2 separate regions of the Homo sapiens genome follow, and region 2 is linked to region 1. The links come from fine-mapping of genetic effects on gene expression. A gene starts in region 1. The other region holds a variant in brackets. All regions are shown on one strand. Distances are between the middles of the regions.

What was found.
Region 2: its variant is fine-mapped to the expression of ETV5 in monocytes after interferon gamma (Fairfax 2014, PIP 0.95).

Annotation. Positions count from the first base shown.
Region 1 is chr3:186,098,855-186,114,944 of GRCh38, forward strand. It overlaps ETV5 (ETS variant transcription factor 5), which reads right to left and starts at 10,235. Exons shown (of 13, transcript NM_004454.3): 1 at 10,086-10,235; 2 at 6,970-7,088; 3 at 6,771-6,858; 4 at 6,595-6,642; 5 at 6,451-6,501. The coding sequence starts at 7,014. RefSeq lists enhancers at 8,958-9,017, 9,776-10,754 and silencers at 9,788-9,887, 9,918-10,547.
Region 2 is chr3:186,044,210-186,060,299 of GRCh38, forward strand. ETV5 (ETS variant transcription factor 5) reads right to left here. Exons shown (of 13, transcript NM_004454.3): 10 at 13,214-13,282; 11 at 12,866-13,035; 12 at 7,821-7,922; 13 at 2,105-4,651. The coding sequence ends at 4,430. Among named protein-coding and RNA genes, the nearest start is that of ETV5-AS1, 27 kb to the right of the region's middle. The variant T/C (reference allele first, on the strand shown) is at 8,756.

The DNA.
Region 1 (16,090 bases):
ACTGCCTGCCCTCATGTCCCCTCCAGCGAACTCAGTGCCACTGGAAGCATTTCTCTGAAGTCCTTCTGACCACAGAATCCCCATTCCATGCCTCGGCTGTTCAGATCAGCCTCAAACTCCTGGCCTTTTAATAACTAGATCTTATCCTGCTCCCTGGAATCTTGCACTCTCTGCTTCAATTTTCCCCTAGATGCTTCTTTCTTTTTAAACAAGGGAGCCCCCTTTATTTTCTATGCAGAGTCCTCTTACGGGGAATTCTTTTCCCTTTAACATCTGAGTTGCTAACCCACTGTCATTTGCCTGCCAGGCCCAAAGGTGTACTTACATTATGGTTATAATTTATACATACACACTCTAACTAGTGCCGGCACATACTAGGGGCCTGGTATCTTGCCACTCCTTTAAGCCAAGCCTAGAGGGATAGGACAATGATAGAAACTGACGACCAAAGCCTCTGTTAAATGAGCTTGATGAGTTCACAAAATGAATTTTTAAAAAAGCAACCTAATCCGGTAATGGCATCAGCATGCCTGGCACTTGTCCAAGAGCTGGGAGCTGCAACATGACAAGCCTCTGAGCTCCTTGGATTCCAAGTGGAGAAGCACTGTGTGCCAGGGCACAGATGGGGCCCAAGCTGCCTCAAGGGCAGCCGTATGCCCGAGAGGGGGCTGTCAGCCTCTGAGGCTGGATGTACTTTACCACCACTAAAACCCAAGAAATGTGTGGAGGGAACAGTTTCTCGGCAGAGAATCACACACCCCACCCCACCACCAAGAAACATTTTTTTCTAGGGCTGAAATTAAAACAATGATACTACTAGATGGTAGAAATGGGAGACAGTACACATTTTCGGCTTCATTATGCTACCCATGCCTTACTCCTGTAAAACTGAAGAATGCTGAAAGAGGAGGGGATAAATGGTAATTTCTTCATGGATGCCAGGATTTTGTTACTTCTGGCACCTACACAAGTGATCTTGACACAGATGTAACTCCCCGTCCCAAATCTTTCTCACCAAATACAAAGGACTGGTAAGCCTACTGGGTTTTGTTAGATGACTAACAGCGCAGAGACACAGAAGGGTAAGAGAAAAATTCAGTTTTAAATAAGCCTAACTGAATTAAAGGTAGACGAAAGCAGATTTTGTAAAACAGATGGCTCCTTTAAGTAAATGCGTACTGTAGGTCTTGGGTCCTTCAGAATACTGAGTCTAAGAATCTTTGAGGCTATCAAAACAGGAAGGATTTCAAATCATTTAGCACCCTCCCAGCAGTAAGGTACTGGGCTAACTAACAAACACTTTGAAAGTAACACTGTAAAACCTGGAGTCAAAGAATCTCTCCTCCATGTTTTCCTCACGCTTTCATCAGCATTCTTTTCTACCTTCAGAACTACTGATTCCTGAAAAGTATAAACCAATGGCCTTGTTTTCCCTCAAACCTCTTATTTTTAAAGTGCCCACTGTTTTCTTTCTTACCTTGCCAAACAAAAAGACTTTAGGATGATCCTTTTGAATAGAGGTGGCCCAAGCAAGAAAACGTGGTGTTTTGCTACACCACACCTAGGACCAAAGACCAAAATGATGTACCCTCTCCAAAGGAAAGGCACTGCCTCTACTGTACTAAACTCACACATTAATAAAGAAATCCAGCTGAATAATCTCATCGTGAAACAGGATTAAGATCAATGTGTTTTAGGCTCAAGGGCTGTCATAACAGTTAATCCTATTTCCCCAGCCGTCTATTGCAATGTATTTATGAAAAGTCGATTTTATCAGTTAATTAGCTGGTCCTTAGGAAATTACTTGTACTTCCTCCAGTTGTTCCATTCTCTTTGAAACACAGATCTAAAAAGAACACTTCAAGGGGAAAATGGGGTCATTTGGATCTTAAAACAATTCTCTAGGCTGTATTTGGTATGGAGGCCATGACTTTGAAATAAGATTTTTATCATGCTCTCTACTCAGCATAAAATATCTTAGTTATTCAAGATGCTAACAGGTATATATTTATAATATCATAACTGAAATTAATAAGTGAGATTAAAAATCAGACCCAAAATGTATATTTAAAAAACTGCTATTTATATATGCTAAAATCTAGTAACACACTCTTTAAGTACCCAGTCAGTTCAGAAAAATGAATGGAACACATCACCTTACCCCGACTTTGAAACACTCTTGAGTTCCAATCTTATCCATGGCATAGTTAGTTCTATGAAAATGTGTAGTAAATATGTACATACATCTATGCACTGACCCAGATTCCCTGGTTTAGCCGCTCTATGTGTTAAGGTACACATTTAGCTACATACACAGTTACATAGATATATACACATGCACAAACACTTTTTCATATATAGGAAATATGTACACAGTTTTATCTGTATACACACGAAAGGTGTCTTCTAGGAAACATGGCAGTTTTCTTTTGTTTTCGTTTTTTAGAGATAGGGTCTTGCTCTGGTACCTAGGCTGGGGTACAGTGGTGTGATCACTACTCGCTTCAACTGTAACCTCGAACTCCTAGGCTCAAGAGATCCTCCCGACTTGGCCTCCTAAAGCACTGAGGTTACAGGTGTGAGCCTAAATATGTCAGTTTTTTATAATTTTTTTCTTTTATAATTACTCTCTGTCTTCCAAATCCTAGATGGAAAAACTCAAAGCATGAAGGTATTGAGTAACTTTCTCAGGATCATAGAAGGAAGAGAAGTGAGTGCTGAATTGGACAGCCAGAGGCCTCCCAGATGCTTTCCTGAACACCATCTCCAGGTATCTGAAATAATGGAGACCCTGAATACACTTGAATATGCCACTACTCCCTGGCTCTGCAGCTTTGTGAGAGCTTCTTTAAGAATATTATTTTATACATCTTCCTCTTACTTCACCTAAACCTTCCCATCTGCCCCCACTACTGGTCAGTCTCTTCAGCTATTTGGGAATAGCTGTGAAAGGAGGGGGCTGGGCAAGCTTGTCTCTACAAAGGACATCCAACTCAAGCAATCTGAGATCTTCAGAGTTACTTCTTAGGACCAAGGGACAATGAGGTCCACTGGTAGAATCCCTATGATCTATAGATTTCTATTCCCTTGAATTTGACCTTTCAGAGTCTCCATGCTTTACTGATATCTATATGTGTGAGGTAGAGGTGAAATCTGTACAGCTAGAAGTAAGCTGGGCATTTCTATAAGATATAAAAGCAATGGTTTCATTCACTCAAATCAGACTTAAGGATGTATCCCTATGGGCAGGAAACCCAATTCTAAGAAACTTACAAAATATAATCTCTTTAGAAGTTGAACTTTTAGTGTTTAGAGAAAAAAAAAAGCCATAATCTTTAAAACTGACATTCCAAAATAAAAATATTACCTACATTTCTTAGTATTTCTCTTTCTTTCATGTATACAATAAATTTACACATATACAATGGAAAATTATCAAATCATTATTAATAGGAAAGTGTATTACCAGTGGCCACTGGTAAGAATATTTGTTACAGGCCGGGCACAGTGGCTCACGCCTGTAATTCCAGCACTCTGGGAGGCTAAGGTGGGCGGATCACCTGAGGTCAGGAGTTCAAGACCAGCCTGGCAAACATGGTGAAGCCCCGTCTCTACTAAAAATACAAAAATTAGCCAGGCATGGTGGCAGGTGCCTGTAATCCCAGCTACTCGGGAGGCTTAGGCAGGAGAATTGCTCGAACCTGGGACGTGGACATCCCAGTAAGTGGGCCGAGATTGCGCCATTGCACTCTGGCCTGGGTGACGAGCAAAACTCTCTCTCCAAAAAAAAAAAAAAAAAAAAAGGTTTGCTTTCCCCTGGCAAATCTAAGTTTGGCTTATATTCATTGGTTAAGTGAGTCAAACCAACTCATAAGGTTTCATTAAATTTGAATGAGTTTTCTTCCCTCCCCTGAAAAAAATCACGAGCTCTTCCAGAAAATGACTGGAGTGAAGCTGGTCCTGAACTCGAGGCTGTGGAAAGCGCTCATGGAAAAGTAAGTGCATGCAGCCGGCTGTGGGCTCTGCCAGCTCCTCCTCATGCTTCTGGCTGTTGGTCTGAACTGCAGGCAAACAAACTTGCTTTTGCAAGAATGAATGGCTCAAAGATGCACCACCCACATTTGTGTTCTTGCCTTGCTTCTTAAGCAAGTTATTCTATTTGAATCTATCCCTTCTTGAAGCTCTACCTCAAGAAATAAAGTCAGAGGGAAAGAATCATTAGAAGACCTTTTCTAGGCTAGTCAACCATCTCTTTTATCCTTAAAAGACAGAAAGGCTCAACCTTAGGCAGTTAAAACAAAAAGTAAGCAAAGTAAAAAAAACATCATACTTGGTAAGCAGAAACATCTCCCAAATTACCTCCACTTGAGGTATGGAATTTTAATTAAAGAACTTAGCACATTCTATTTGCTGAGCAGAAATTATTTCTAAAGAGCCAAAACACATTTATTGATTTCTTCACTTTAGCCTATTCCCACAGATAAATATCTCTCCAAATATAAATCCTGCTTGCTGACAAAGAACATACCCTTGCTTCAGCACATGCAATCAATTTGAATGCAGCCATCTCATCTCCCTTTTAACTCTTTTGGGTTACAGAGAAACAAACAAAAGTGTCATAAAAGCATTTCAAAGAACCTCTGCCAAGAAAGCCACCTCCCAAACAGACTGCAGTTTATGCTGCTCTGAGCAAGAACTGGAAAGGCTGGGCCAAATTGTCAACACAGAACAAAGTTGGATTACAAACCCTGTCTTTCATCTTGCAAACACACACACACACACACACACACACACACACACACACACACACACACACTTGGATTATCTTTATTTAGTCTTTCAGTGGCAAGCTTCCCAATCACTCGAAAGCAATCAAAGGGCAATAATTAACATGCATTTACTCTCCCATAGAACACATCCACAGCAAGCTGTGACAAAGCTAAGGTAACCATGCATGTGTGTGTTCCAGTTTATTCCCTTTTACAGTTTCATGGCATTGTGCCTTGGACATGAGGCCTATCATTAAGGAATGTTTAGCTGTTACCTCTGCTCTTACATTTAAAAGATTTGGAATACCCAACTTTTTACTTAGAGAGAGACCTAAGATACTCTCTCTCCAGTGGCATTTTTACACACATACACCCACCTACCCAGAGATAAAACAAAGCTGGGAAGAATCTGTTGGTCCAAAATGAGAAATTGAGTCCTTGCATGGCTCAGGTGCTTGCTATTATAAACTATGACTAAGAGACATGAATTTCTCTATGATGCAACTCTCAAGAGAGGCAGCATTTTCTCCAGGCCTCTCTTAAACCTGCTCATTCGCCAGTGACTAATGCTCTCTAGAGCAGCCCTGTGCTGCTCAAATTTCATCAGCCGGCTTTGTCCTTCATAACTCTGCCTAGACCATAAAAGCTCCCAAACCTGTTGAGGACAGCCCCAAAAGATCAGTGCAAAGTAACCATGCCCCTGCCAGTGTTGAAAGCCATCTTTTGAGCTTCCCACTGCATTTTCTCTCTAGTAATGAGCACTTAGTGGCCATTTTAAGAAAAAGTTTCTCTTCTCTGAAGAGAAAAGCCACAGCAACTACACGAAAAGTAAGAGTAAATCAGGCCACTCTGTGACCACCCCTTGTCAGCTTAGGGGTAGAGACAAAATTGACAACATGTTGGATGAAGCCAAAGTTAACTGGAGTTTTCCATTAACTATTTTCTGCACCTTTAAGAAAAAGAGAAATATCAGGTTCATGATTCACATCAAGGACTTAATTTATAAAACAAACCCCAAAAAAGCCATAAAACAATGTGTGATTAATAGATGCTTGGCCTAACACCAAATATATTTTGTCAGTTAATTTATAATTTTGAGCTTAAAGCTTTGCAATATTCTTTTTTTTTTTTTTTTTGAGATGGAGTCTTGCTCTGTTGCCCAGGCTGGAGTGCAGTGATGCGATCTCAGCTCACTGCAACCTCCGCCTTCTGGATTTAAGTGATTCTCCTGCCTCAGCCTCCTGAGTAGCTTGGATTACAGGCGCCCACCACCACACCTGGCTAATTTTTGTATTTTTAGTAGAGACGGGGTTTCACCATATTGGCCAGGCTGGTCTTGAATGCCTGACCTCAAGTGATCCACCTGCCTCAGCCTCCCAAAGCCCTGGGATTATAGGTGTGAGCCACTGTGCCCAGTCAGCTTTACAATATTCTTAAGGTAAAAAGAAATTTAGGATAAAATTATGTTCAGTAAATCTTACCTGCAATACAGTAGAAATACTTTAGAAATAATTTTATTATGAAATAAAAGTTTTCAGGGTTAATTCTGAATTATTAGAAGAAACTAAATGCATACTACTGTCTAAATCTGGCCATAGCTGAAAAAAGCATATTCTAGACATGGATGATCTAAGACCAAACAATTTCAGAACAAATGTGCCATCACCAGAAAGGTACTTACGGTTATCAGACTGAAAATCTGGGACAAACTGTTCATCATCAGGAACTTGTGCTGGAAAATAGATTTTTATTTTAGACCTTTAAGTTTTATTAAAAAGCACAGTAAAATGTTTTATATGGAAAATAGGACATCCATGAAACTTGCCTTCAGCTAACCAAGCCTCTTGAAGTTGACTGAGATCCTGAAATAGCTCTGAAATTGAAAAAGAAGACCCCAGAATGAGGATATTTCTTTCGCTAGGGAGAAGACAGGGAAGAATCTACACGCTACTGTCACTGGGAGCAGGGAAGCCACAACATAATCAGGGAAAGCTTTACTACCTTCAGAATCGTGAGCCAGATCTGTGTCCAAAAACTTCCTCTTTCTGTCAATCACAGGCCGCCCTCTGCATTCCTCAGATCGAGATTTCTGAAAGAGGCCAACAGAAAGTGAAGGCTCAAGTGTAGTAAAGAGGTCCACAGGGGGAAGACTCATATTGGAGAGGGAGGACAAAACAAACCAAAAGCCACATAAACTTACCCCTGGGACCATAAAAGGGACTTGCTGATCATAAAACCCGTCCATGGTGCTTTCAGCGTCTCTAATACCACTTTGAGAGGTTTCAGCATTGAGTAATTTCTGGGGGAAAAGGGATCCTCCTGTAATATGAATTTGGGAGATTTTAACTAAGAGGGGGGAAAAAAAGAAATGAAACAATTTTAGACTGCCTTTTTTTTAGGGCCTGTGCAAAATTATTACCCTTCTGTGAAGTACTTAAAACCTACTCAAGGTGCAAGCTTTACACACCAATGCCGGGCTTGATTAATGGTATCAGAGGTACAGGATGTACTCCGTGCCAAATCCATTTACCCAGTCATCATTTTTTCTTTCTTATTTAAATCATTAAAATTACAGATTTGCTACTGTCTGTTCTCTACCAAAACAAAAATAAATAAATAAAATAAAATAAAAGGGTGATTTCAAGATTCTCTCATATACTCCAGGGCATTTGTAGTAGGGTTTTTAAAAAAGAGATAATTTAATTTTTGACAGTACAGTGTCAGGAAGCAGAGAAACTGGGTTTAAGTATTCCAAATTATTGGCAATTAAAGATCTGACATACATGGTGTTTCCAAAAGCATTTTGTAGGTCACTGTTAAAACACTATATATAGTTCCTGGAATAAATTGATCAGAGGTATACTTATCTTCACACACAACTCTTTATTTAAAAGAGGACTAAACAGATATAGCATCTGTAATGTCACAAATATCTCCCTGGTTACTTACAGAGATATTTGTGACATCTCCAACTTCTAAAAGAGTAAAATGTCTATGAAAAGTAATGGATTAAAAAAACTAATTCCATTGCATGTGGTACAATGCATCTCTACCAAAGGTCTTTTAAAACTTAGGCTGTTTCATATAGCGGAATCATTTTTTTCTAGACATACCCCCCCACCCCCAAATGAAACTCATTTCAGGACGGGTAAGTGTGTGAGTCTGGGGAAAAAGGGTGGGGTTAGAAGGGAGAAAACTTCTCCTAACGTGAGTGGAATAAAGTAACAATTTCAGGGAGGTACCATCTTCCTAAACACTTTTATTCTTCAAATAAAAACACCGTTAAGTCAACAAAAGGTGGAAAAACATTAATTTCACTCACTCCAGCTCTAAGCAATTCAAAATGCTTAAAGGTCAACTTCTTTTGTTTGACATATACACAATTTTAAACAGGAAACTTTTCCCCCGGTGAGCAATTCCATCCAATTTGTTTTTCACACTGTGTGTAGCATATCAAATTTTTCATAAGTGGGCAGGATACAAGGACACCCTTCACAGCCAGCATCCTCCGCAGCACTTTGGCCCAAGGAATCAGATATTTTCAAAGTCAAAGGAAAGAGAGGAGCAAAATAGCACACAGTTCATAACTTCCTAGAAAAACACTCGCGCCAGCCTGCCTGCGTGCCCCGTCCAAACACCACAAGAAATGTTCAGAATAACGCCTCTCTCAAATGCCACCAAACCGTATACAAAATCTGAGAAACCTCAGCAGTGAGTTGAGGGGCATGAAAGAGAGAGTGCTCTGTCGCTTAGGAAAATCTGTCAGATTAAATCATGGCCTAAGACATTTTGTGAATGTGTTAGGAGGAAGGGGACAACCAGTAGAAGACGGGAGGGGGAGATATTTTTCAGTCTCATGATGAAATACTTCACCCGGAAGAGCAAAAAAAATTCTAAAAAATTAAAAGAAATAAACTGCCATAAACGAACGGAAAAGAGGCATTCCAGGGTTAGAAAAATTGTATTCCAAGTATAATTTTTTTAAAAGCCTGAAGGAAAGGCTCGAGTTCATCCAGGAGTTTAAACCACTTCCTTTGCCCCCCCACCACCCGCGCCCCGGGCGCCCCCAGGAAAACTTTAGCACAGCGCAGCGGCGCGATCCAGGCCCCTCCCCTGTGGCGCGCAGCGGGCCCGGTTTTATGAATGGGAGAGCGAGCCGCGGCCGCCACATCAGGTAGAGGCTGTAACTGGATCTCTAGCGCTGGGCCCCATTCACAAAACAAGACACACTTCCACCCAATTCTCAGCCTTCCCCATTCATGAAAACTCCTTCAGCTGCGCCCCCGCCCCCATTTCCAACGCACGCCCAGCCTCCGACGCAGGCCCCTCACCCCAGCGTTTTAGGAAGAAAGCTCAATGCTTCATTCACAAAAAGGGAAGAAAAAAAAAAAAGCCGCAGGGAGCAGCGAGCCAACGAAAGAAACCCGCTTCATTCATAAAGTCACCCACATTCATAAAAACGAGGTGCGGCGCCCGGCGCTACCAACCGCTTCCAATCCCCCCACCCCCAACATCTCTCCCTGGCACCCCCTCGTCGACCAGGAGTTCGGTTCCCCCCCGAGTTTTCTCCACCCTCTGAAAATGCGGCCGGAACCCTAATCCGCTGCGAGGCTGCAGCATCTTTCGGTGCTGTCCCCTCCACACCCGTGTTATCCCCACCATCCCCAGGCCGCTGTTCCGGTGCGCCCCGATTTTCTCGAGTCGCCGCACAGCCGGACGCCCTCAGCCTGCTGGGTGGGAGCAGGGCGACTGGATGTCCACTTTCCACCACCTGAAACTTGCAAGGCCTGCGTAAGTTCCTGGTCGACCCCCGCCCCCGCAGGCTGCACTTGCCTGTGTCATTTACCCCCTCCCGGTGCTCTGGGGGGCAGCGCCTCTCAGACATTCCCCTCAAACTGCTTCCCGCCCCCTCCTCCCAACTGCGGAGCTCCGCCAAGCGTCTCTTCTCGCGAGCCTCCAAGTCCCCTCGGGGCTCTCGAATCTCCAGAGACTGTGAAAGCCTCGCAACTCCGCGATCCCCCATCCACTCGGGAGCCCCCGCACTCGCGCTCCGGGGCGCCTCCCCCACGACGTGTGGAAAGCCGCTCTCCCCGCGCTCCGGAACCGTTAGCCGCACCCGCCCGACGCCTCCCAGGAACCAAACCGGACCGGGCCGCGGGGGGAGGGGGCGGTCAACCCGGGGGGGGTCACCCCAGCTACTGCACCCCGACTTTGAAGATTCTGAATCAGCCCGTGAACTCTAGCCGGCTGGGCCTGTCGGACCAGTGGCCGGACGCCCCTTCCGATCTCCCCCCTGCCCCCGCAAAGCCCCCTCACCTGAGGCGGCCTCTCTCCTCCCCTTGCAGCGGCCCCGGCGGCGCAGGCGCGCTCACGCACGCGCGCAGCGGGCCTGGGCGCCTGGGCGAAAGGCTGGGCCGAACCGCTCCGAAGACGGTGAACCGCTCCGCGCACCAGCGGCTGGACTCTGCGCCGCAGCTGCCAACCAGGCTGGAGCGCTGGCCCGGCCCCCCGCGGCTCGCTGCTCCGCCCGCCGCCATTGGCCCGCGGCCCTAGCCCAGCCTTGTTCCCATTGGCCAGAGGCCGTTCCCGCGGCTGTCCATCACCTCTTGTTTACCCTGTCTGCGGGCAAATCCAACCAAGCCGCCCCATCAACTCCGGCCCCCATTGGCCAGCGGTGCATCTCTCTCCACCCCCTCAGGGGTCTGTTTTACATAATTTATGCACCGGGGGCCATTGGCCAATCAGCACAGGCTTGTTTATATAATGAATGTAAGGACGTTTTTCATTCATAAAAAACGCGACCTGAGGGGGAAGCTTAGCTGAGTCAGTGAAGCACTTAAAGGGGCCGAGGCCAGGAGGAGCCGCCGTTACTTCCCTTCTCGCCGCTCTCCCGACTTTTCACCGAGGCACGACTCTTCCCCCTTACCCACTCACCCCCACTTCTCCATCCAGCAAAGCCCCGACCAGAATTGGGTCTCTTGGCGCCAGACGTTCGCAGCTGCAGCACCAAGCAAAGTTATCATTTTAGAATTCAGGGGAGAGGAATTCGTCATTCCACACAAACTCGCTGACCGACCTGGGCGTTTAGCCCACAGAAACACAGAAAACGGAAACCGAGCCCTCTAATCTTAGTTACCTTTAAGAGAGGCCTTAATTTCTTTTAACCAGGTTTCCAGTGGGAAGAATAAGCAGCATCTCCTTTTAAAATCTCAGCTCTCAAACAGATTTTTGTTACTATTTTGTACTGGCAAGGCCTAAGACCCAACCAAATCCCGTTTTCTCTTTAACTGCGGCTCGTAACCTCCGCCAGAGTGGGTTCTGTAGTCGAGGTGAGACAGGGTTCGGGCTCAAAGAAATCCTCTCCGGGGACAGCAGCAGCCAGTCCACCGACCTGGAAACCTAAATCCCTCCGAAACGGGCATGCAGACTCAGACTTTTTGCCTCCCTCCCCGGGCTGCTTGTTTTCCATTTAAGTATTGAATGCAAGATGGTGTATTTGCGAATTAGATCCCGTGCAGCTGGGAACGACGAGAAGCGGCTCTGCTTGCCAAACGATAGGGCACTAACTGCAATTGCTGAGATTCTTAACAGGGTGTTCCAGGAAACAAATAAACAAACAATCCTCTCCCCTCTCCGCCCCCTTACCCCCTCCTGTGAAGGCCGTGGGGCGGCTCTATCTTCTCTCCGGGGATGCTGGGGGCCTGTGACGGAGCTCTGTTCTCGTCCTGCTGGAGTGCCCTGCCATTCACGCCGCGTGCCAGCGGTGGGGAGGAAAGATGCTAAGTGACAGGAGAGAGCCCCTAGCAATGGGGGTCCCACGGTGGCCAACTCTGGGGCAGTTCCTGCCCCTGCCACCCCCACACTTAAGTCAAAGGTTCTTTCCTATCTCCACTTGTGTCTCTTAAACAGAGCGGACACTTGGTCTGTCGTTTATAGCCCTTGAAATGTTGGCGTGCCCCTAAGCAACCTGCAGCACCCGTGTTGAGTCCTGGGCTCAGCACTGACCAGGCACGCTGGAGCTGTTGACTTTGGAAGACTGAAATGGGCATGAGTTGATGGATGGAAAGTACTCTGAACATGTAACAAGCAGTTCCTTGAGATCTAGTTTCCTGGTAGAACATTTTGCTTCCGACTCCAGTTTTCCCTTAGTGCCCTTTTTCTTTCTCCAGGTGGTACCGTTTCTGTTTGGTGGCTGGAGATCTTACACTAGTACAGTTGTGCTCTGAGCTTATTGCTGACATTCCTGAGAGCTCTATCTCCCTAGCTAGATGAAGGGCCCAGGTAAGCTCCCAGATCCTCCTCCTCCCCAATTTTGTCTACCCCCACTCCCGCTCCTCCCCATCCCATCCCATGACATCCTGCTCTCTAAACTCATTTTTCCAAAGGAGCTTTCTTACTCCTCTTCCCTTAAGTCTCTCAGGCCCCAGCCCTCCGGAAGGCTTACAGCCCACAGAGCCACATATCCTCACCATCTAAACCGTAACACATCAATCACACTTTATAACTTTGGCTACAGGAAAACAGTGCCGCACGCTTCACAGCAACTTCCTCACAGGGTTGGACCTGATGCCTGGAGTTTGGCTCTTGTGACCTTTGCCTCAAGCCAAGTCTCTCCATTCCACTTTGAAAAGAGAAGTAGGATAGTTCTGGGTTGAGTAGTAACAAATAGTGGCTCAGGTGGGGGCAGGGGAGGATTGGGCGATAGATTTTTTTTCAAAAATGCTTGTCTTGAACACGCGATCATGTGCAGGGGATTACACCAGAATAATTGCCAATTAATTATTGCGATTATTTAGTTATCCAGTAAACATGTATTTTGTACCAAATATTCAGCCAGACTTCGTGCTAGGCAAAAAAGTTGCAGAGATGAATAAGACCCAGTCTTTGCGTTGGAGGAGCCCACAGTCTGCTGTGTAACTTCAGTATCTGAAGTTTACTCAGCACTTTATATATGACTTGTTCATGCCATATATAATTCTTCACAGATTATCTCATTTAATCCTCATAATAATAGTACCAAAGTGGTCAGGCTATTAATGTCTCCATTCTATAATATATAGTTGAGAAACTGAGACACAGAGATTAAGTAGTTTGCCAATGGTCACAGAGCTTGAAAGTCAGTTGCTGAACTTGGATAGGAGCCAAGGTGGTCACATCCCAGAGCCCATATATGGGAGACCTAGCATCTGCCTCTCTTGTTCAGCGACTACCGGGAAACATCATTTCAACCCAGAGTGGTAAAGGACAGAGCTGGCCAAAGTCAAAGGAGGCAGATTTTAGCTCCAAATAGGGTTAGGAAGGACTCTGGGATGTTTGGAGTGGTCCAGCAAAGGAAGATTGTATCTGGCCCTGAGTCTTCCATCACAGGAGGCATTTATGCAGAAAGATTTAGGGATAGGGTAGAGGGACTAATGCATTTTCCAGGATAGAAGAACTCTGAGGATTGTTCCATCTCTCAGAGTCTCTGATTCTGGGAATTTGGAGGTTTGTGCTGGACAAGGGGTACAGCTCTTGGCACAGCCATCTTGGCTGCAGCATTAAAAGTCAGAGTACAGCCTGCGATGACCTGAGCCAGCTCCTGGGCCCAGGGTGGGCTCCTCATTTTTAAATATTTACTGATATCTTCTCTCCACTCTTCTTCCTTCTTCTCTTTATGATTTACCTCCCCGGCTCCTCTTCTTTTGTTATCTTTGCCTTTATAAGAGTTAAAGGTAGTATTTAGAAGTTCTTTGTCTATTACGTTGAGGCTTCCCTCCTAGGAACATTACTTACATGGGAGGTTTTGTCGAACAAGCATGTGTTCTAATTATCATTCCCTCTCCTCCAGGAGAGAAACAGGATTGGAAAAGAAAACAAAAAGAGAGACCAGTCCTCTGGCACATTCATCTAATGTCAATCTAGCCTTTGTCCTCTGGCAGTAGCAAAACTCAATCACAGCACGATAACTAGACCCTTGTTCTTTAAACTCAATTTGCAGTGTGTCTAGAGGGGAACAGTGTAGAAGAATAGAAAAGAAAGTACCTTGCCCCAAGCCTGAGAACTGTTACCCTTTAGAGAACTGCTTTTAGAATTTTCCCCTAAAATGCCAAAAGCAAGTTACCGTATAAGGCAGGCAACCCTGTCTTGAGCTGATCACCAAAATGATCGTGGGAAATATGGAAGCATCATGATCCTGGTTTCTCATACTGGGAAAATCCCTCCTCTTTCTCTGTTAGAAATGCCGGGGTGAGTGTAGACCTGCCTAGGGTTTGGGATGTGGGCTACAGTGCTCCTGGAGTCCTTTCCTATTCTTGTATGGGGGGAAGGAAGGGATTTGAGGAAAGGGTAAAAAAGGTACTGAAATGTTGGCCACGCGTGGTGACTCACACCTGTAATCCCAGCACTTTGGGAGGCCCAAGTAGGTGGATCACCTGAGGTCAGGATTTCAAGACCAGCCTGGCCAACATGGTGAAACCCCCGTCTCTACTAAAAATACAAAAATTGGCTGGGCGTGGTGGTGCATATCTGTAATCCCAGCTACTTGGAAGACTGAGGCAGAAGAATCGCTTGAACTTGGGAGATGGAGGTCGCAGTGAGCTGAGGTCATGCCACTGCACTCCAGCCTGGGAGACAGAGTGAGATTTCGTTTCAAAAAAAAAAAAAAAAGGTACTGAAATGTGTTTTTATTTAAGGGAGAGATAAAGAATCCTATCTTCCTTTCTAAAATTCAGAAATAAAGGCCCTAAAAACTTAAGGGAGAAAAGAACATCTGTTAGCTTCAATGTCTCTTTAAAAAATAGGGGGCATATTGTTTTTAGGGTTCCTTCCAGCCGGGGAATAGTAAAAGCTGACATTTACTGAGTACTTAATATGAGCCAGACACTTTGCTAAACACTCCACATGACTTGGCACAGTTAGTCCCAACAACAGCCCTCTGAGGGAGGTACTATTATCATTATCTCCACTTTTCATAGATGAGAAAGCTTAGGTACAGAAAGGTTCAATCTATTGCTCCAGGCCACATAGCTAGCACATAGTAAAAAAGGGAGTGTGCCCAAGCAACAGAGCCTGCTCCCCTAGGATCTGCCCAGGAGCCACTCTGCTGCCCTGTGGAAGCTGTGTGTGCTTAATGACAGCGGCCAGCACTGCAAGAACACTTCCCTGTGCTAGACTCTGTTTAGGGGCTTTGCTTATATTAACCCACTTGATCATCCTAATAACCCTGTGATACAGATATCATTATTCTCCCCGTTTTATAGATGAGGAAAGTGAGACAGAGAGGTTAGGTAACTTGCCCAAGGTCACACAGCTAGTAAGAGTTGGAGTCAGGCACCTAATGTAGATCTTGAACAGAGTCCTTGCTCTTATTCACTCTGCTCTGTCGTCTTAGTTCCTGCAGTCTCTCACTTTGTCATCTTGCCCCTCACCTTGTTCTCAGGGCTTTGGCTGCTTGCTTGCCATGCCAGTGAGAGCTGCTGTGCTTCCTTAGGAACCTGCTTCAGCAACTCCAGCCAGACTTCTGAATTATTGTCCTGGGCTGGCAAGGATTTGTCTTCATGAAAGCCACTTTAGAAAAAGAAGGGAAATGATGTTTACTGAGCATCTCCAATATGCCAGGCTCTGTGCTAGACACTTTACATACTACAGTGTTTCATTTAATACGCCCAATCTCTCTTTAGAAGTGGTAATAATACCCAATTTGCTGATATGAAAACTGAGTTTCAAAGTGAGAGGTTTAAAACCATGTCTGAGTTTCCTCAGTTAGAAAGGAGCAAGTCAGATCTCTGACAGAACACAGAATGCATGTTCTTGAGCCTCTGATCCAGCCAGTCTGGGGGACCTTATTCCTCTCCTGGTTCTTGACTGAGCTCGAAGACATCCTTTCTCCTGTCTCCTGCTGACTTTCAATTCTTATGAAACAGCCACTATCAAGAAAACCTGGAAGAGCATGTCCTATTTAGATTTCTGATGGCTGACAGGTTTATTTCTTAAGCCCACAACTTTAAAAAGAAACAACTAGCCCGGCGTGTTGGCTCACGCCTGTAATCCCAGCACTTTGGAAGGCTGAGGCAGGCCGATCACTTGAGGTCAGGAGTTTGAGACCAGCCTGGCCAACATGGTGAAACCCCATCTCTACTAAAAATACAAAAATTGGCCAGACATGATGGCGTGTGCCTGTAATCCCAGCTACTCAGGAGGCTGAGGCAGGAGAATCACTTGAACCTGGGAGGCGGAGGTTGCAGTGAGCCGAGATCACACCACTGCACTCCAGCCTGGGAGACAGATCGAGACTCCATCTCAAAAAAAAAAAAAAAAAAGAAAGAAGATGGAAATCTTAGGAA
Region 2 (16,090 bases), 55 kb before region 1:
ACACGCACACACATTCCTTGACTCCCCTAGGAAACTCCTTTCTTTCTCCCTTACTGCCTATGAGATCGGGGAGTAGTACTTCATCAGTGCCCTCAATGAACCTAGGAGGTTAGGCCAGATGGTCCCCTGAGACCATTTAGTTAAACCCAATCAACCACTGACCTGGGGCCAGAACCCAAATGTCTAGGCTCCAAGGGACTAGTCCTCTTTCCACAGTAGCCACTGTGAAAATTCCAAAAAAGAAATTAATTTTGGAGGCTAACAGCCATGGTATTTTCAGACTCAATTTCAACAGTATTACCATTTCAGAAAGCCTGCCAAAAAGATAATGGAGATGAAAAAGTGCTGTGTAAAGTGCTACCCAAAGGTTACCTGAGGTTCACTGCCAAGGTCAACAAACCCAGGCTTGGGTGTAGAGCCAGCTCTTAAAGTTGGAGGAGCTAAGGCTGGTCATTCAAAGGGCCCCTTCTGAATGGGACACCAGTGTACTTGCCGGGATCAAAAGGACATAGCCGCTCGCCTGGTACCACCCTCACACCCTCCCCCTATTTTAAGTACAATACACTTATGTTGAATAGAATACTTACACTATGTATTTGTACTAAACAATACTTACACTATGCATTTGTATTAAACTGATGATCTTCTGGACTTTTTTCCTTTCTCTTGTATTTCAGAGGCCACACATTGAGTAGCAGCCACCTGCACCGCTGGGCAATGAACGGTCTCTCCAAAGTTTCCAACCGTCTGGGTACATTAGTGTTTTTCTTCCACATTAGTTTACATTTGTCCCAGCTGCATTAGAATTTAGATTCTGCACATACTCTGGCTCTCAAAACCACATTCTTCTGCGCTCACACTACCTCTTTGTCATCTAACAACTGAATACGCATTGTTTCCCTGGCTTGGCTCATGAAAGGGGACCCTGATGCAGAGTAAACTTCCCATTCTCTGAGCTTCCTTATCCTAGCGCCCAACACTAGAAGGGCGGCAGTGTTTGGTGACCTCCTGCGTTAGGTTAACGATCTGGGTCCGGGCCCAGGCTGGATAACGAGCCCGTGAATAATGGGGAGCGGATTGTTAAAGCCTTATCATGGTGAAGCTGAGAGGCAGAGACGGCTTTTTCCTGCGCACCCTTGCCCCTTCTCCCCAAGCATCTTTTCTTAATCTGTCGAAGCTAATGGGGTTTATGTGGCAGACATTCATTCCTCACAAGCTCCAATTCAAGAGGCGGTGCACTCATTCAGTCTCGATGTTTCTACACTTAGAGGCTTGTAAAACAGTAAAGAAAGATAGCAGATAAACTGACAGAAAGCCTTCTGTTCTAGGCTTGAAAAAAGGCTCTACTTTATTTCTCCACTGTAATAGGAGTCTTGAGAAGGCCAAATTAGAGGTGCAGAAAAAGGGTGAAATAAGAGCACTAGAAACCGTAATAACCGTAATAACACCGCAATACAACCCGGCGAACTTTATTTCCTTCCACGTATTTCCCGAGTGATACATATTCACGAGAAAGAGACAAACTTGGAGGAGGAGGTTTTTACTGCTGCACGGCCAGAAAAAAACATAGTGGGCAAAACCTTCCTGAGCTTTTTTCGTTATTTATCAACCATTAATTGATTTTTCACTTGTCAAGAGCAAAACTTATTGGGGAAAAATTAGAAAATGAATGGTCTTAAGTTCTTACTGGTTTTCAAAGTATCCACATAAGGGGCTGAGGATAATTCTGGGACTCGAAAGTCCTAGACTGCTTTGTAATCTTTTCACACAACCCAAAGCGAAACATGGGCTACACTTAAAAAAAGAGTTACTAAGAATTGGTGGCTTGGTGGGCTCAAGGGGATGAGGTGATCTCAGCTCACCATTGGCTGGGAAGAGGATCTCTCGACTTTCCACCTCTTTGGATTAAATTTTTAGCTGGAGTTTAAGAGGAGCTGTGCACATCTATTTCCAGGTAACAGAGTTCCCTAACTACCCTCGATGCCACTGTCCATTGGTAAGGCTAAATTGTTGAGAGGGCTAGGGCGGGGGCGGAGAGAAAGCCAGGGGGCTTTTGCCTGCTTTAAAATTAGACCAATGAGGGCAAGAAAGAGGCAGGTTCGGGTGCTTGGTAAACGAAAAGCAAACTTCTTTATTGTACACAGTACAGAATATAACGCAGCTTGGCAGGATGCATACGGCCCTGCGCAGGGGAAAGTATTTCAAATCAGCTGGCAGGTTCAAGCCTTTCTGCACTGTAGACTTTCCACACTCTGGAAAAGAAGCAAACAAACAAACCCCAAAGAACCCCCGAAAAAAACAAAAACCATCCGGGAGGTGCATGAGTCCAATGGGAATGCAACCGTGATGCCGCTGTCCTATGCCCAGTGACAGCACAGGTCACGTAAGTTACAGCAGGGGAGGGGTAGCTCAAGCTACAGAGGATTATTGTCATATTGCTAAGACAGCATAAATCCATTCAAAAGAAAAAAAAAAAAAATCCAAACCAGGGTAAGTAAAGAAAGGAAAACCAAATCTATACAGCATTTACAACAAATAAATCTCTAGCCAGCTGGGGGTAAAATATGCATCTATGTATAGACTATGTGTAGGTTAAGAAAGCTATAAATATGGTTTAGAAAGAGTCCTTTGATTAGAGTACAATGCTAATTAAGGCCCAATCTACAGGTTTACCACCTTTGTGGGCTAATTAGCTTCCAATAGAGGAGAATCTCATGTTTCCATAGCTATAAAGTGCACCCCTTATCCCTGCGAACCTCTTCACAAATGTGCTGTTGGTCATAAGGGGGACAGTTTGAGACTATGGAGTGCTCCATGAATAGAAAAGCAGTTCAAAGCACGTGTCTCACACTCACGGAGTCAGCACTGCCTCCTTCACATACGAGGAACAGTGTAGTCATTCTTAATGTACTAAGTGTCACGGGGAGCACAGAATTCTACCAGCAGAGCAGGCAGCAAGGTACCACCAGTAACTTTTCCTCTACTTTGAGCTCAACTTTCACATAGCTTTAGCTTGGTTGTTTAAAACTTTTCCAATATAATACAGCAATGAGAATAATTTCTTTTTAAAAAAAGGCAGGAATCTAGAATGCTAGCACTGTTGCTTACCTGTCAGTATCACACGTAAGTCTCAAACCCTACTGAATCACACAGGTAGGGTTTAAAGTCCAAGATTTAAAGAAAAAGGAAAACAAAACAAACTGATGAAATGGAAATTGTCATCAGTCATGCCCAGGGAAGAATCCCAAGGGTTTTCACCAGGTGACCAGGTTTCCAAAGGACATGACACATGTTATATACATATGCTTTCCAGAGAGGGCATGTTAGTGAACACGGGGAACTATACATAGAGAATCTAAGCTTGTGTCCAGGCTGCCCTGCACACTTCAAAAATGTACAACTCAGGTGCAAATGTTCCATCAGGTTGTCTGGTGCAGAAAGCACAAAGCAGGCAACAAGGCGGGCTTTCACATGGCCAAGGGGAAGCCTCAGCAAAGCCCCTCTCAAGCTGCAGTGTCTTCATAAGTTGGCACGGCCCTGGCTAAAGGACACAGTGCACAGTTACCAAAAGGTTTGTTTTTGTTTTTTGTTTTTCGTTTTTTTGCTTTAAATACCAAAACTACAAAAATCAGTTTATAAACTGTTTTTCCAAAACAACCACCAAAACAAAACAATCCCCCAAATCAGGGCAAAACAAAATACTGTCAAAAGTGTTAATCGCCCTTCTCCTAAAATAAAAGTCATCCACACTCAGCCACGTGATTGGGAAGAGAAAGGGGGCTTGCTCTACTTGGCGACCACATGGCCGGGTGGTTCCCAAGAGTAGCCATGGTTTATGATTTTGAGAACCACGGAGTGGGGAACAGCTGTTCTGACTGCCCCCCTTTTTCTAGACAAGGGGTAATATTTCAGATTCAGCTAGAAGAGCTTTCCAATGTTTAAGATGTATTTTTAACCCTTAATGGTTTGAGCCTCCCCAACTTAGCCTACTTACTTTTCTATGGGTTTGTGATTTTTCAACAAATTGTGCAAATCAGAGCCCTTCTATGTAAAGGCATTTAGTAGTCCATGATCGATGCAGATTGTCACATACTATGTCCCGTTTTGCGGGTACTAACCTGAACAAGATATTGCTTTGCATGTATTGTCCATGGTAAGGAGACTCCATTTTGATCTCTTCCCAGAAACCTCATCAGAATCAAGAGTTGAGGCACTGGCCTTTTGGTGGTTTTCTGCCCCTCCCTGTTCCCACTCCCCAGCCAATGTATCTGTCTTTAAGGGTGCCAATCCAGAGACAGCTTGGGTTCTCCAGATAATACTCAAAGGGCAAGCTTTAGGAACAACCAAAAACACAAACAAAACCACTGCCCTTGTTTGCCTGAATGGGAACTGCTAGCTCTAGGGTTTGGCCACTCCGCCACTCAGAAACTTAGTAAGCAAAGCCTTCGGCATAGGGGAGGCTGCTGCAGCGGTCCATGTCCAGGAGGTAAGCGGGGCTGTCTTCAAAGTGGGTCAGCGGCAGGGTGTCCTCCTCGCTGAGGTGGCACTCGGACTCTGCCTTCAGGAACGGACGCTGGTTATCCGGGAAAGCCATGGAGAAGAGGGCATCTGGGTCACAGACAAATTTGTAGACGTATCGCTCTCCAGCCACCTGCGGGAGAACACACACCTTACAGGGCCCAGTTGGAACAGGGCATGGGATCAGGGGAAGAGAACGAGGTATTCCTAAGTCACAAAGCCAGGGACCAAAGGAGCAGCCGATTACCCCAATCACTCAGACTTATTTTGAGAACTCCTGGGAACCTATTATCTGCCAAGTGTTTTACTGACACTACAGCAGTTAAAAAAGAAGATATCTGAATTTCGAATTCACACTAGATGGACTCTTAAAAGAAAATCTTCACTTTCTGTCTTCCAGTGACAGCTTTGAAAGCATGGTTATGCTGAGCCTGGAGTCTGGTGTTCCAAAAAGGTTTAAGGACTGACAGGTGCAAGGCAGAAGCCTGACCACATTTTTAGTCACTTCCAGAGTTTACAGTCTTCACAGTATGGCCTTGTTATTTAGAAAGGTTAGAAATCTGATGAGAGCGAGCCTGCGCAGAAGCCTTAAGTATGTTCCAAAGCTGAAAAGAATTGCTTTTGGCTTACCTGCAGCTTTAAATGACTCACCGCATGGCTCTGCTACACTGAGGGAACCGCTAACTACCTTTCTATGGGTTTTCTGCATTATAATATTAGAACCAGAAGGTCTTGGTTGTTCAAGGACCTCATGGTATGTGGCTGATGAGACATCTGCGTCAATGGGATCACCTTCTCTCTGCTGGTTGTTCAGCAATAGTACAAGAGGCACCTAATACCGAAAATCAAACCCAATAATCGGCTTCTGTCTGGAGACGCAGAGGGGGAAGGGAAGGCAGCCAAATTTACTGATAAGATAAACATTTTAGATTTAAAAATGCAAACTGTTGAGTTTAATCCTGCCCTTCAGTCATTCTGCTGTGATTCTAAAATCTTTTTTTAATTGAACAAGTATGGCTCTGCTTCCACATCTCTACCAATCAACCACCTCTAGTTAGTGTTGTACGCTGGTTTTACCTTAAAGCCCAACCCCAAAAATTAGTTTGTGTGGGAGAGTGAGGCAGGAGAGCACAGTGGAAATAATCCTAGATCAGAAGCTGGGAGTTGCACGGCTTCCAGTCCTGGTTTAGTCACTAATGAGTCTTAACCTCTGTGAACCTCAATTTTCCCTTCAAAAATGGAGGGCATGGGACTACAGCTTTTCTAAGTCTCTCTACACACCGACGGGCTATCATTCACCTTTTAATGAGCTCTCATGTACTCGTGAGTCATGTAACAAATAAAATAATAACCCCTTCCTTACACTGGATGGCACATTATTATTTCTGAAATATTTTCAAATATATTACCCTGTGGGATTAAAGCAAGAATTATTATCTATATTTTTATTAGAAATAGAGGCTTTGGGAGATTAGGTGACTTTCCTCAAATCATACAGCTAACAAATTGAAGTGTTAGGATCTGAGCCCACGAAGCCTCATTCCTGGGCCTTCCTGTACTCTTTGCCTACTTATTCTCAGAAATAAAGTTCTCTTCTACTCCCTTAGAAAACACAGAAGCTAGTCATAAGGACAGCTCATTTCCATTGGTTCAAGTTACTGTGTCCTGGGTTGCATCTCCCCATGCTGGATGTGGAGTTGGGAACAGCAAAGGAATAATGGCTCTCCCACCTGAACTTAGGATTTGGCCTGATGATATCAACTCTAAGGAGGATAGAGGACAATGGGGAGTGGCTGCTGATGGGTATGGCGTTTCTTTTTGGGGTGATAAAATGTTCTGAAATTAATTGTGGTAATGGTTGTACAGCTCTGTGAAACCACTGGACCGTATACTTTAAAAAAAGGAGAGGTAAGGTAGGGGACCACCTATCCTACAGCATTTAACTCTGTATCAAGCACTGAAGTTAAACCTCAATTCCTAACCCAAAGGAGCTTACACTCCAGTGGGGGGTAGTAACAAGAAAGGAGTTAAGACACAGCGAGAAGAGCAGTGGTAGGAACAAGTACTGGTGCCATCAGAAGCAGCAAAGGGGACCACCTAACCCAATCTGAAATGGAAAGGTGACAGAAAACAAGGAGGGGCTGGCCAGGTACTGAGAGCATTAGGAATGTTCTAGGTCTTAAGTAGGATGACAGTTTAATAGGTGTCTTCCATTTTATGGTATGCTTGATAATGTACATGCATGTAACATGTATTCTTTGGCAAACAAATACTACATTACATTAAAAGGTGGCTATGCTAGTGAAAGCCGTCAAGTTTGAGTGAAGAAACGAGAGTTAGGTGGTGACCAGACTGGGAACAGCCTCAGAGCCTGTATGACGCACTAGCAAGTCTAGAGTTTATCCAGAAAATCACAATGAGCTGTTGAGTATTTTTTAAGGTGGCGAGGAGAATATGGGGTCACATTACCACCCGCCTATGAGAAAGATGAATCTGGCTTCTTGTAGACAAGTTCTCAGCAGTTTTGCCCATATGCTTCTGCCACGTTCATCTTATTGGCTACTGCCAGGTAGACTGGCTCAATGTGTAAATGCTAGTATCTGGGCAACAGTACATTACGAATTTGGTAGCTAAGAAAGACTTGCCATTCCCATCTTCTACTTATCCATGGGATGTTAAGACTGTGGCCCCTTGCTACCTATCCCACGAAGAATTTTGTACTGATTTCTTCAAAATATGCTTCATCCTCTATTCCACAAAGAGCAACCTGCTACCAGGTGACTCTGCTGCCATTCTACAAACGTTGGGTTTTTAACTTGAGTTCCAGTTTCTGTAAGTCTGAAAGAAAAATCAGATGCTCTTATTCCTCTAACACTTCTGAGCATATCAAACTAACAGATTTGGAGGTCTAGGTGTTTTAATAACTAAAGACTTCAATCAAGCTGTTGAAGTAGAGACCTTCAAGTTGATTCCCTGTAGTCCTTTTTGGATACAACAGTTGGCCTAAGTTTCTGGAAATTTCTATATATAGAAGCAGTTTTGGGAAAGCAGAGAAGCCTAATTTTCTATTGTGTGTTCTGCATGCAACTTCTAGTTTCCACATAACCAACAGCATCAAATGTACTCTATATCTCATTTGATTCTTGTCTCAAGTTTGTCTTCTCAAGATTGTTTCCTACCACAGAATCACTTAGGGGGCTAAAATTTCCTCGTAGCGACGATCACCAGTCTCACTACAGAAGCCCTGGACTTTTTCCTTAAAAGAGACCAGAGTGGGCTAAGGGTCTTGTATAATGGCTCACCTTCTGCATGATGCCCTTTTCATAGTAATAGCGGAGAGAGCGGCTCAGCTTGTCATAGTTCATGGCTGGCCGGTTCTTCTGGATGCCCCAGCGCCGAGCAACCTGAAGAGACAGGAAAGTGAAGAGCAATGGAAACGCATTCCCTGGGCCCCATGTTCTCTCCCAATCCCAGCAGAGCCAGTTCTGTAACCTGACTGCTTTGGTCAATGATCTGCTACTCTGACCTGGAAGGGAAGGCATTTAACTCCCTCAAGACCAAACATTCAACAAAGGCGATGATTCAGTGACAACTACTAGGAGGTGAGACCTAGAGATGGAAGAATCCTAGCACTTTAAGATTGCAGAGGGCTTGGCTAACATCCCAGAGGATGCAGGCCCTCTACTATTTCTCCACGTATGAATTATTGACCAATACCCATAGACCATTAACGTGTTGCCATTAAGTGCTATGGTTTCTGTAGCAGTCAATAAGGAATAATTAGAATGGTCATTCCTGAAACATTAGAAACACACTAGTGAGTTGCTAATGGGCCAGCAGAGCAAAAGTTCAATTCTAATAAGATTGGAGGGGGGCTGGGAGATGTTTACTTATTGCAGCTCATGGACTAAGGGGGAATCAGATCATTTCAGCCTGCTGCCATCCAATCCCATGCTCCCAGCAGACTTGCAGAATGGACATGAAAGCATGTAGCACCATTATCCACTTAATGAAAAATTAACAGGGCTTTCCAAACAGTTCTGAAATGCATTATATCCAACCCAGTCCACCTGAGGCACACTGATAGGGCAATATAATTGGAGCTCTGGGCAAAGCAGCCTTCTAGCAGGAAAACTTCCTAGTAGAGTTTACCCAATTATCACGGCAGCCAAGCAATTTCTGTTCTCAAGTATATCAGCTTCCAAAATCCTACTTATGAGAATGACTGTCAAGGTAG[T/C]AGAATAACCCTGGAAATGTGAGTTTTACTCAGAGGTTTTCAAATGTATGCAAACCAGGGGTCAGGGGTCACGTTTGGAGCATTTTAGGTCAGTTTTGGAAACTTAAAAAAAAAAAACAAACTATATTCCTTCGATTATTTTATTTTTATTTTCTGAGATGGAGTCTCACTCTGTTGCCCAGGCTGGAGTGCAGTGGCACGATCATGGCTCACTGCAACCTCTGCCTCCCAGGCTCAAGCGATTCTCCTGCCTCAGTCTCCTGAGCAGCTGGGATTACAGGTGTCCATTGTCATGCCCAACTAATTTTTGTATTTTTAGTAGAGATAGGGTTTCACCATGTTGGCCAGGCTGGTCACAAACTCCTGACCTCAAGTGACCCACCTGCCTCAGCCTCCCGAAGTGCTGGGATTATAGGCATGAGCCACTGCACCCGGCCCCTTCGATATTTTAAAAGCCAAATGTTAAACATGGAGTAGGAATCAGAGAGAAAACAGCATTTCACATAAACCTTTTCCTTAAAATATCTAGGCAGAATGAAAGCAACATCTTCTAAATTCAGGATTCTAAAATGACCTTTCATAAAAGCCAAAAATGATCTGATAAGAATGCATCTCTCTTAATTACAATAATAGCAATGATTCTGCTCTGCCTTGCAAGAAACCCTGTGAAAGTCCAATTTCCGTTCAGTTGCTTCATGTCCCCACAGCAGACACGATGTCCTGGGTCTCCTCTTTTCTCCATATGGTACCCACTCTACTCTACCTTTGAAACAGCCCAAAAGGCAAAATTAACCAAAAATTACATCCTGGTTAGAGAAGATAAACATTTAAAACCAATAGAAATAATGGTAAGAAGAGACATCTGCTAACCTAATAATATACATCATTGTACCCTGTTCAAAGCAATGATGCCTTATAAAACTAATCTTTAATTGCTGTCTGCCACAAGTGACACAGGGAAATTTCAGAGAAGCCCAGCCTCATCATTTTACTATGTTAAGGGGTGGAAAACAATCCTTGAATATTCTTCAACTTCAGCGGCCACCTCTCAGCTGTCACTTGCATATGCAATTGCTTACTGGAGAAAGGTTTGGTATACGCACAGATTTCAAAGCAGCTCTGGTAGCCATAGTTACTGACTCATCCTCCCGGGCCAGAGCCCTGTGATTCTGTAGCCCTCACCACGGCTGTTCCTTCTACAGTAATGCATGAGGCGGCTCAGCTCCAGAGCAGCTGGGAATTAGGGCTGCCCCTCTTCTGGGACTGGGGAGGCAGGCAATAGCTTGTCATCAGATCTTTCTTCTCTCTCATTAGTTACTTTGGTAGCACGTATCTTGAGGACTGAGGCTGAAGGAGTTAACGGATCTACCTATTCCTTCTCCCCTTTAAAGAGAGAGCAGCCACAGCCCAGGGAGTGGCTCTTTCTAGCAGCCCATCCCTTCAAACCTCCCAGCAGCAGTTATCTGCCACATGTTCAACAAACAACCCTACCCCCCAAAATATTCATTAATGCAGATTCACAGTTAAAATGGCTCCAGATTAAAGCCGAGTCAGTCATAATTGAGAGGGTGCTAAGCTGGATGACTATCAAAAGACATTTGATTAGGGGGCCTGCCAAAACGCAGTTCTAAAACCACAATTTCCATGCACAGTGTAATGGATATTATGGATAATTACCCAGAGTGCACTACTCAGCCACACAGCTGCCTACAATTACGTCCCAACAGCTTCCTCCTCCGCTTCACCCTTCAAGCTCCCCCATGACGACTTCTTACAGCTTTTTCCAGAAGCTGGTATCTTCCTGACATTAACAAGAACAGGGCCCTCACAGGTATACAAGGAGGGGTGGGGGGAGCTCAGCAAATGTCACCTGTCCTGAGGCTAACGTGCACATGTGGCACCCAACTGATCCTGGGTGAAGAGAAAGGAACATTTGGAGCTTAGGGAAAGCTTGGGGACTTCAAGGTGGGGTGGAAAGCACCATTTCCTGAAGAAACAAAGCTGCCCGGTCAACCGAGGGAGGCTCAAGGACACCACAGGCTTCTCATATGACTTGGCTGCCTGGCATTTACGAGCATTCTGTATTAATATTAGTTTCTTTATTAAGTAAGAAAGCAGGGGCCCTTTGCCATCTGTTCATCATTCTCTATGCCACTGGTAGGAGTGCAGAAGATTCAATAACAGCTTTACGAAGGATCATAACCAGGTTTACCTGCAGCTGGACGGCCTGTGCTTAGGCCCGAGGCAGTGGCAATAAAATAATAAAAGCTCCTGTTTGTGAAACAAGATAAATCAATAAGGGCTGCCCACATGACAGAACTACTTTCAGAAAGCCTCAGTGAACCTAGGTGACATGCTTTTCTCAAACTTCACATAAACCAGGCCACGTTATTCAGAAAGCAGTGAGGAGAGGCATGGGTCGGCGTGGGGTGGATGGCTCTGCAGGGATGCTAGAAGCCTAAAACATGGCTCTATTTCTACATGGCCAGAAAAAAACACGTAGGCACTAAACTAACACAGTGGCACTCAACTCCAGCTCTGAAGGTAGACTGAACCGAATAGAAGCTGTTTAATTAGTCCATCTAGAGATGCTGACACATTTCCATTCTCGTGAGTGAATATAAAACAGGGAACACATAGGCACATCTTGTTTTCTAATTGCCTTGAATGAAGTCTGCCTTCTTCTCCTATCAATCAGGATTCTTCATAAATTTCTAATCCACACATTCTCCTCCTTTTCCCATTTGAATCTTTAGACCACTTTCTTGTTCCAAACCAAGTCCCCGGTTGCTACCTCCTCCTGTTAACCCCATGCCAGCGTATTTCTCTGGTGTGCTAAAGCGAGCCCTAGAGTTAACTGAACACTGAAAACAGCAATTCTCGTTCAAATGCTTTCTAAGAGTGTCTAAGAGTGTTGTTCCCAATTTAATTATACCCAACCCAAAGATGCCTTTTGATCTGCTGGTTTAATTTATATGCCTAAGAACATGCTACTAAAAGAAGCGTATGTCAGTTTTTTTGGGCAGTTATTTCTGTTCCATTTATAATCTCTCTAGATTCTAAATCAAACAGAAATTAAAAATCAACCCCTTTAGAATATGCTATACTGAGAGCCTGATTTAATTTACTTTGTTATGTGATATTCAGGAAAGGGATTCTAGGGTGTGTCTTCTCCACTGAAGAAACGGCACTGGTTCTGTCAACAGTGTATTTCTGTTCTGGGCACAAAAACAGTAACAGTGTTTTTTTCCTATTAAAATAACTGAGGTTTGTATCATCTCTCAACTACTCTATTGTGATGTCACATAACACACTTTCATTTTATTTTTTTGGACACAGGGTCTCGCTCTGTCACCCAGGCTCAATCGATCCTCCCTGCCTCAGTCTCCCAAGTATTTGGGACTATAGACACACACCACCATGCCTAGCTAATTTTTTATTATTTTTATTTTCTTTTATTTTTTGTAGAGATAAGGTTTTGCCATGTTACCCAGGCTGGTCTCAAAATCCTGGGGTCAAGCAATACACCTGCTTCAGCCTCCCAAAATGTTGGGATTACAGGTGTGAGCCACTGCACCCGGCCATAACACACCTTTGAAAAAAAAAATCTAAGCTCATTAAGATTGAGCCACCTCTGATAATTTTATTTCTCCAGGCTACAGCCATTTGAAATACACAGTGGGTAGTTGTATCCTGTAATATATTGTCAAAATGTCATACAGTATGTTCACGTAGACTCAGAGATAGACTATGGCCCACAGGGGCTAAGACCAAAACAAGTCTGTATCATTGAAACAGCACCTGAAAAAGACTTTCCAAGAGGGAGAGCATATCCTATTTGAATATAAGTCTTCATGATCTTGCCCCCTAAATTTTGCAGAAGTGTTACAAATACTTTTCATGTATTCTACACTGGAGAACTCTGCCTGTCCATGTATTAGAAACTGTCCCATTAATAGGAGGGATACAGCCAAGCCCACTGGCCAGGCCAGAATATGAATGAGAAGCAAGAGCAGACTTGACACAAAAAGCCTCAATGGAAATCTAAACAAAAAACATCATCAACAACAACAAATCAAAACCCGTCTGAGTCCAGCATCCAGTGCATACCTCTTCCGGTTCTATCAGCTTGAACTCCATGCCTCGACCTGTCCAGGCAATGAAGTGGGCATTGGCTGGGTCATCAAGAAGGGTGACCAGGAACTGCCACAGCTGAAGGGAACCTCGCCTCTGGTAAGGGGGCCCCTCTCGATACATGGTAGGCTCCTGTTTGACTTTGCCTGTTTGGGACAAGGACACATCACACAATAGCTTAGTCCTAAGTTTCTCAGGTGGTTGGGACAAAAAGGAGTTGTTCATGCTGATTTAATCACTGGACTTGGGAAGAGAGTCATGGCTGAGGTGTTCTGACACCTCCAAACCTCTACCTGGCAACAAACCTTGGATGGGGCTACTTACCTTCCAGTCTCTCAGGCACAACACAAGTGTCGTCAAAGTATAATCGGGGATCTTTTTCATATGAAAAACCTGAAAGAGAATTTAAAAGAAAGACTACGTTGCTTAACAAATTCTGTGTTGTACTAAAACTATGGATTTAAGGACTAGAGTGCAATCCTATCATTTCAGATCCTAAGTCCTACTGCTGTATCTATGGCAGACTGAATTTTCAGGGACTTCAAGAGGGCTTAGGCATTCCAATTCTGATGTAATCACCTGCGCCTCAGTCAGAGCAGCATCAATTCCTGCTTTTACAGCTAAGACTGCAGGGAAGTGCTGAGTCACCAGTACGTTCCTTTGCATTTTGCTTCTGAGGTCTGCATGGATCAATGTTGCTCTGACTAAGCCTTTACAGCTGGAAACACATCTCTATTTCAGTTGGCCTAGCTGGATGGATTTGGTTGATCTGTACACAGACCTGCCATTTTCCTTTTAGCTAAAATTAATTTCAACCTTTCCTACTAACTCATCCAAGCTACTCACATACCTCGTTCAATTACGAAAGAGCTTGAAGGGTAAAGAATGTTGCCAAAATGAATAAAGACTTGGGCCTGTAGAGGATTTCGAAAGCAGTATTGGGGGTATTATTACCAAACAGTGGAGAGGATCTGAAAAGACTTTCTAGCAATGAAACAAATTCACTGTATAGATGACAAAACAGAGGTCAAGGAGGAACTGGCCCAACAACACATGCAAACGAAATAAAAGAAGGCAAGGCAAAAAGTTAAAGGGCTCAAGAAGGAAGGATGGCCTGACAGTCTTCATCCACAAACCCCTAATATACACTCAGTGCTAACCACCATGTCGCTAGGCACCTTGTCAAGATTGGTGGTTCAAATCAAAGCCAGGTAACAGATAACTTGGATGGGGTCACATCCCTCCTTGTAGTTCAGCCTGTCTCAAGGTGTAAGGTCTCCAGTGCATACTCCTTTACCAGCACACGTCTTAGGAGAATGCCCCAGGGCTCCTGTCTGATAAGCAGTGCTTCCCTGTGCTCCGTTTTCCTGTTAGTTCACCTGGCTCATACTACAGGTCTGTGTGTGTTGGATAATGCAGTGGGGGCAGGCAGGTGAAAAGGCTCTGCAATGAAGGACTTCCATTAGATCTGAGAAGGATTCACTGCGACTTAAAAAATCCACGAGGCTGGGCACGGTGGTGAGCAATTATAATTCCATGAGCAATTATAAGGTTTAAGGGTTCTGAATGAGGATAGCCATAATAACAAGTGCTATGTGGCTTATGGAGGAGTAGGAAATAAGTGATTTTAGATTGGTTTGTTGAAGACAAATAGCCTGTAATCTCAGCGCTTTGGGAGGCCAAGATGGGTGGATCATCTGAGGTCAGGAGTTCGAGACCAGCCTGGCCAACATGGTGAAACCATCTCTACTAAAAATACAAAAAATTAGCCGGGCATAGTGGTGGGCGCCTGTAATCCCAGCTACCTGGGAGGCTGAGGCAGGAGAATTGCTTGAATCCAGGAGGCGGAGGTTACAGTGGGTGGAGATCACGCTATTGTACTCCTGCCTGTGCAACAGAGAGAGGCTCTGTCTCAAAAAAAAAAAAATAAAATAAAAATAAAAAATAAAAAAAAAGAAAGGAAAAATCCGTGAGTAAAGGTGCCAAGGTATAATTTCACCATTCTTTGTTTCTTCAGTCAACCCAGATCAAGTAGCTTCTTGGCAGGAGCAGCACCATTTTTAAGAGGCCTGGGACTGAAGAAACTCTGCACAACTGAGACTGCTTTGAGGTTTATATTATTCATTTTTGTTTTCTCAGCCCTAAGCATTAGTTCTCTGTTGCTTAACGACATCAAAGTCTATTTTATTGTCATTTATATATTATTTAATCCACTAAGTATTTATGCCAGGCGTTGTGCTAGAAGGGAGTAGGTAGCCAGGCGAATGTAGACTTGGTCCTTGTTCTCATGGAGCCTGCATCTCAACTGGGGGCGACAGACAATAAAGGAGAAAAAGAAACGAGAGGTGGCATAGTACTGATGGACTCCAGTCAGCTGTGCGATCTTGAATAAATTAATCTCTGTGCTCCAGTGTCCTCATTGCAGCAGATAAAAATTCCTACCTTATGGTGTTGTTATAAGAGTTTAATTTAGTATCATTCAACTGATCTATTTCTCTATCTTCATACCAGAGTGCCAAGAGTAGCTCCTGGTACATAAGTGTGTAATAAATGGTAGTTAAAAAAATAAACATAGTCATTGTACAACATTGTGGTAAGTGCTATTAAGAAATTAACTGAATAATGTCAGAGCTTGATCTTATATCCTCCACCAAAGATTCTAAATTCCTTGAGGATAAGGATCGTATCTTGGTATCTTAGTGTCCTCATGGCACCTTACACATAAGTACTAAATAAATATTTGAATAAATGAGAAGTTTTATAGTCTTCATTAAAAAATATTTAAGAATATAATGCTAACTTTTAAGTCAGGGATTCAATGACTCCTGATAAATTTATTTTCCAATTTGGCACTAAACTGACTTTTATGACCAACTGGTATACTCTGTATTACCAACAAGACTTTCATAATCCACTATGCTTCAAACATTTTGCCTTGCCTGCCAGGAAGCTACATATTTCCCGATCTTCCATATGTATTTTGATATTCCGGTGATGTTTTAATGGTCTTATTATAAAGTCATTACAAGCGAACTACTTCAAGTTTACGTATCTGTCAAACTTGCCATGTTATTTTCAGAGTTCTTCTCCTCTAAGGTAAGAAAAATACATTCACAGTATGTAGAAAAAAACACAACCACCTACATCTAGAAGAAATTCTCAGTTTGGTTTTCAAAGCTAATCAGATGAAGGTCTGCCTAT